2 linked regions of the Homo sapiens genome follow. The protein of the gene in region 1 purifies or fractionates together with the protein of each later gene. This does not show direct contact. Each region holds a gene or a part of one and is shown in the gene's direction. Other genes may lie near its edges.

Region 1 (3,755 bases):
AGAAAGATAAAGGTAGAAGGATGCAAAATTCTAACAATGGGAGAAATGACAGCTGCAAGGAGAGGGAGGGGGAAGCAACTCTTCTAAAACATAAAAGGGTCATATGATATTTATGAAAAAATTGATTATTTCAAAAAGATTCACAATCCCATTCTCTAACACATAATCTATTTTTACTTTCCCGCATCCTATAACTTGGATCTTGATAAGACTCGATTCGTTGTTTTATGTGGTTTGCAATCTCAACAAAACAAAATTTGTGTTCTTTGACAAGGATAATGCATAATCCTGACTTCAGTCTTCCCTTTTAGTCAGAACCTACCTATTTAAGGTTATTTTCCATATTAACTATTGATGATCAAAATAAGTCTAACTCGTGTTTTTCCTAGTGTTTCATAATTTTAGTTACAGAAACGATGCAGATAAAATTAATCTAACATGCGTCTTCCTGACTCTAGTACGTTGAATCTGGCCAGAAAAACCACATTTGCTCTCTACGTAGGTAATATAAATCCATCATTAGCGAAATTGCTGCATCCCTTTGGACTGGGTCTCATTAGCAGAGGTTGGAGTGGCCACTGGCCGGCACACGACACTTTAGGCCAGCAGGGGGCGGGTAAGCTCCAGGGCACTCGCCCGAGCAGCAGGGGGCGTGTCTTCTGCTTCCTTGACGGACAGCTAAGGATGCGGGAGAGGATGAGGTAATAGGAGCCGGGGCAAGGAAGGAGTTGGGGTGCGCGCGCGTGTGTGTGCGACTGTGAGTGTGCCAGTGCGTGCGCAAGCCCCGAGACAATGCGTGTCTCCAGTTCGCGCTGCGGACACTGATCATGCTGCATTAAGGAAAAAAAAAGAGAGAGAGAGAGAAAATTACATTTGGGGGAAGGAGGCTGCAAAGTTGCGGCTGGGCGACAGTGGTGGTCCCGGGGCCGTGTCATGGCGGGTCGCTTCTCTGCATCAAGGAACCAGGGAAACACACGCGGGCGCGGGTTTGCCTTAGCGCCCTGCTTGGGAGGGGTGGTTCATTCTGGAAGGAACTGAGCAGAGCCACAGGCAGGGGGAGCTCTCCCAGCGGCGGGGACTGCAATTCGTGCGGCGAAGGGGTGGGGAGGGAGGGAGAGAGGGGAGGGGACCAGAGCGTGCCATTCCGAGCGCGGCCGTGCGGCGAGATCCCACCCCGGCGTCTGCAGAGGCCGAGGCGCAACTGGTGCGAGGGCTGGGTCCTTGCCTCGCCGTCAGCCCCAGCTCGCGGCCGCCGGGGCTCGGGCCGCGCGCCCGCCGAGTGGCTTTTGCAAGGCGGGGGCCTGTTTGCAGAGAGCCGGGCATTTGCATGAAGCGACTCGACCCCACAGAGCAGCGGCAGCAGCAGCGGACCCCGGCGGCGGCGGCGGCGCGCGGTCCCAGCCAGGCGGCCCCGGTGTCCCGGCCCCGGTGGATGCACGGCTGGGGAGGAGCCCATGGGCCGGAGCTGAGGCTGCCCGGGGCGGCGGGGCGCGGGGCAGGGGGCGCGGTCGAGGCCCGGAGGCGGCGGCGCAGGAGGAAGCGGAGGAGGTCGGGCGCTCGGGGCCCGGGAGGCGGGCCGCGCAGCGCCGCAGCCCCGGGCTCGCCATGCTCCTGGCCTCGGCCGTGGTGGTCTGGGAATGGCTGAACGAGCACGGCCGCTGGCGTCCCTACAGCCCAGCGGTGAGCCACCACATCGAGGCGGTGGTCCGCGCCGGCCCCCGCGCGGGGGGCAGCGTGGTGCTGGGCCAGGTGGACAGCCGTCTCGCGCCCTACATCATCGACCTGCAGTCCATGAACCAGTTCCGCCAAGACACGGGTGAGCCAGCCGCCCCTGACCCCGCCCCGCCTGCTCCCACCTTCCCAACCTGCCAAGGTACCTCCCTCCCTGTGAACCCACCTTGGCCACCTAGTCGGCACTTCTGTGCAGCAGTGTCACCAAGAGGTGGTGGTGGGAGGCGATTCACTCCGCTGAATCCTCGCAGGATCCTCCCTCCCCCTTAAACATCCATGCAAATAGTATCAGTGTTGTGGTTTTGCAAACCCAGCTTCAACCTAGTCGGTAACAATCCACTCCCCACCCCTTTCATGCCCCCGCTTTTCAGCAGTTGGTGGCCCTAAGTCTTTCTATGTAGAAATTCTAGGGCCGCCCCAGACTACAGGCAATCCCAGCCCTTCGCAAAGGCTTCCTGCCCTCATCCCGTGGCGGCCGGCACCTTGGCTGACCTGACCCTGTTTTGCTTCAGGCACGCTGGGGCTTGCCACACGTCCCCTCACCCCCGATCTCACTGCCTCTGCGTCTCCTGTGTGGGATGCCTCCCCGCAGCTGGGTCCTGGGTGTGGGAACTGGGGGAGGAAGAAGGGATTCCCCGGAGGTTCTCGCTACAGTCGGGTAAGGGAAGCGCCGGGCTCCCTGGGAGGAGAGACTAGGGCTGGGGTACCCTGGACGCCGCGGCATTGGCGAATGCCTCTGCTACACACTACATGCGCGGAAGCAACAGGCCGGAGCAGATGGAGAGAGGAGGGGGAGGCTCGGGGCTTCGGAATGCATGGCAGGGAAGCCGCTCCCTTTGTCTGCGGAGGAGGAGGACGCAGATTCCTAAGGAGAAACTGTCCCCAGGCTTCCTCTTGAAACCATAGCCTGTAAGGAACCCATGGTCTCCTGGAGCGCCAAACTCCTATCTTTTCATGAGAATCAAGTTGTCACTGTAGCCAGCACAAACCCGCTTCCCAGCTGACCTGCCTTTCCAGGTCAGAGCCAGGAAGGGAGCCTCCAGGATGGGGCCTTGGGGGGTGGGGAGTGGGGGTGCTGCCCAAGGGAGAGCAAAACTGCCTCTCTTTGCTCGGTCCTTGCTTAATCGATGACCCGGGAAGAGTTTCTGCCTCCGTCAGTGACAGGTGGGGAGGGGGCCATTGTTTCTGGAATTCTGGCTCGGCTTTCCCAAGAGTGCAACCGAGGAGCCTGGAGAGGCCGGTGTGCTGGGGAGGACGTAGAGAAGATGACTCGGAAAGGCCCTCCCCAGTGAACAGCTGTTTGAGCAGAGTCTCTCTGCTTCCTTGGAAAGCCCCCACATCCTGTGTGCTAATTAGGATTGTCATGGGAAAGGGGTATCTTTCCACCCTCATGTCCCCATCTTTAGTCATAACTCCCAGCAACCCCTTTGCCAAGGACTCTGCAGACACTGGCTGATTGAGGAGAGCTTTCTGGGGAGAGGATTCTGGAAGTGTTAGAATCTGGAGGGGCTTCAACCGTGTGTGGAGCTGAGGGAGACTGGGAGGAGCAGAGAATAGAGAGGAATGTGGGGAGATTGAGAAAGAGGATTAAGTGTGGCTGAGGGGGAGGGAGAGAATGTCATTGCGCAACTTGGGTAAAGGTTGTGGAGGTGAGGGTGGAGGCATCAGAAGGTGAGGGTGGAGGGGGTGTGTGTTGGGCGGAGCTGAGCCACGGAGGTGGGACCAGAGAGAGAGAGAGAGACCAGCAGTTAAAGCATCTGACAGGGGATTCCAGTCCTGGAAAAAAAAAAAAGCAGGTGTTACCTTTTCTATTTCAGAGTAAATCTCTACAGCATTTGGAAAACCACCCTTGTGACAGAAACGTCTCAGCCCCTTTCCCACATTTGGAAAGGGCAAAGGTGGAATCTGTGTTTGGGGGTACTTAGGATAGGCAAGGTATCTACAAAGGTTCATGACCCTTTCTACAGAAGCGAAGTTGTAGAGAAAACTGGGTGGAAGGAAAGAAGCTACGTTTCCCAGGTCTG
Region 2 (2,609 bases), on another chromosome or scaffold:
GAGGTATTACTGACACAATTTCTTCTATATATGAACCTATTTTTAATGAAACTTCAAATAGCAATAAGTTCCGTTATATACTGTGGCCTGAAATAATTTGAGAAAAAAGGTTACTTTGTTATTCAGCTTTTCATAATATCTATGCTGAGTATTTTCACGTATCTTCCAAGTACTCAGCTTTTTCGTATTTCAAATAAGGTCAGACCTTTTATACTTTTGACCAAATAGTTATTTTCTATGTTGGACACTTAGTTATTTACCAAAGCCTCCGATTTGTGATGCAGTGTTTGTAGTCCTTGTAAACAATATATACAGACTATACAAGAATTAATTTTATTGGGCTTTCAAAAACCATATTTGCATTCCAGAACCAAATCTTAAATGAGACCAAAGTCCAGGTTAGCACAGGTTTTTATTTTTCCTACAGCTACATTGAGATATAGTTCACATAAATGACTTGGAGTTTTATGTTCATGAAAAAATTAGGGATTATGTTAAGAGTACTATTTTTTCCATTTTAGTTAAGTAGTACTACACTCATTGTTTAAATGTAACTTGCTGTGTCTGAGGTATAAATATAGTCTGTGGGAGTGAGAGGCAAACCAGTCCTACCCAATTTGATTTGAATATTTTAAATTATGGAACTGCTAAATAGATATTTCTATAAATAGATAATTTTTATTTATGTAGCTTTTTTTGGAAGTAACTTTATAAATTTTTATAATTCAGAAGACTACTATATGTGAGAGGCGTGATATCTGGATGGAAGTTGGGCTGGATGATCTCCAAAGTCGTTTCAACTCTTAAAGACATCTTAATCCTGAATGTAAACAATTGTTATGTGTTTAGAATCAGAATTTGATTTTGAACTTGAGTAATTCATCCTTACAGCTATCTGTAGAATTAGTCATCTTTTTTCTTTTCTTTTTTTTTTACTTTTTTGTTAATAAGCAAACTTATTTGCTGCAGAATTTGGGTTGACTCCTGAGCATATTTAAAACAAAGAAGCTAGAAATTTAGCAGTCAGATTAGGTAGGTGGTTTTATTTCAAAGGGAAACTTTAATCCAAAGAAAGATTAATTACTCTAACAAACAAGAGAAGCTTCATGTTTGATGATACAGATTTAAGAATACCTGAGACTTAAGAGTGTTGGAAGTCATTTGATAGAAAGATGAGATCGGAGACAATGTTGTGTTATAGGGCACACATTGAAGGTATATGCCAAATCTCTCACCAGATAAGTCCTTTTCTCCCTGTGCCGTTTTCTTGCTCAAAGGGAACAGTGAATTAGCCAGCTAGAATCTTCCTGGTCCCTTTTTGAGGCAGTAGCAGGTAAGGAAAGGGCTGATTTTCATCAAAACCAAGACCTTTCTGCAGGGATGATAGTGGAATAATAATGTGGGATTAGCCCGCTAGCATTAGGAGCAGTTGGGAAGTTACCTGGTAGATCAAGCATTACACACAAAAAATCAAGTTGATCAGAGTATGGGTTCTCCATATAGCAATACTTCAGTGAGATTAAGTATAAACAGTTTTTGGCAAAAAACAACACAGTCTACTCTTTCTGCTTACAAAGACAAAGCCTTACAAACTCACTATGAAGGTAAAGGGAGGACAGCTTGCTTCTTTGCCCAGACATTTACAAAGTTGTTTTTAAAACACACTCATAAGTAAGTTTGGCAAGTTGTTTAAAAAATGTCTCTTTGTTTTGTACAGTTCTGTTAGATGTTGTTATATTTTAAAAGTTTAATTTAAAAAATTTAATTTGTCCTTCCTAAGAAGGATAAATATATAAAAAAGCCACTGGAATGAAAACTTCCTATATGCTATGCTGTTGTCTTATTATTATATAGAAAAATAACTTTAGAAAAATATTGAAGACATTGTATTACCACTTGTGATTCAAACAATTTTGTGGTTAAAACTGGATTTTAAATTTAAAAATCAATAAAAATTTCAAATGTTTATTACCTTCCTCGGTGCCATAATTTTGACTTTATCTTCAAATAAAATCCTTCATTAATTGTGACATTTCTATGCAAGTGTTACATTTTTTTGAGAGTACATGAAGATTACTGTAACAGAATAATGTCCTCATATCCTAACTAACTTTATTTTGCTCAATTTAGCTGGTTGAAATTCTTGTTCAGAAATCAAGAGTGCTTATTTAAAATGCCTTGATCTAAAAACATTGGTCCCAATTAATTTCTTCATCTGGAAGAAAAAAAGGAGTTGTGATAATACCTATATATACACAGATAGCACTCTTAATCAATCATTGTACATTTTGTCCTTAAAATTACAGCTCTAGAATTGGAAATACAAACTAACCCTATGTAGTTTGTTACCAGTGAGTACTAATGATCTTCGGCAGTGTGTGCTTTGTTTTGGGGAATGGCAAAGACATTGCTGTATTTTTTTCTTGTTTTATTTATACTACTTGTCAAGGTTTATGCATTAGCATTTGGATGAGATTCATTAAAAATATAAGGGCACATTTGATGTTTGGCTCTTAACAAAAACTCAAATGTTTAACCTCAAGTTTTTAACACATTAACTTCAAAATATCTGCAAAATGTGTTATACAGCAGGACAATATGGGTATAAG

The links. Proteins that work in one complex are often made in the same cells at the same time.
Region 2: the proteins of DTX4 (region 1) and HLTF purify together in Homo sapiens (affinity purification with mass spectrometry, with the first as the bait; one large-scale study listed by BioGRID). This does not show direct contact.

What each region holds. Positions count from the first base shown.
Region 1 is NC_000011.10:59,170,991-59,174,745, forward strand, and holds the start of DTX4 (E3 ubiquitin-protein ligase DTX4), read left to right. Parts: upstream 1-1,605; coding exon 1,606-1,816; intron 1,817-2,274; coding exon of another isoform or gene 2,275-2,455; intron 2,456-2,708; exon of another isoform or gene 2,709-3,507; intron 3,508-3,755. Other genes in the region: basic proline-rich protein-like, read right to left, coding at 932-1,740, 2,275-2,455. UniProt on the Homo sapiens protein: Regulator of Notch signaling, a signaling pathway involved in cell-cell communications that regulates a broad spectrum of cell-fate determinations.
Region 2 is NC_000003.12:149,029,484-149,032,092, reverse strand, and holds the end of HLTF (helicase-like transcription factor), read left to right. Parts: 3' UTR 1-1,966; downstream 1,967-2,609. UniProt on the Homo sapiens protein: Has both helicase and E3 ubiquitin ligase activities. Possesses intrinsic ATP-dependent nucleosome-remodeling activity; This activity may be required for transcriptional activation or repression of specific target promoters.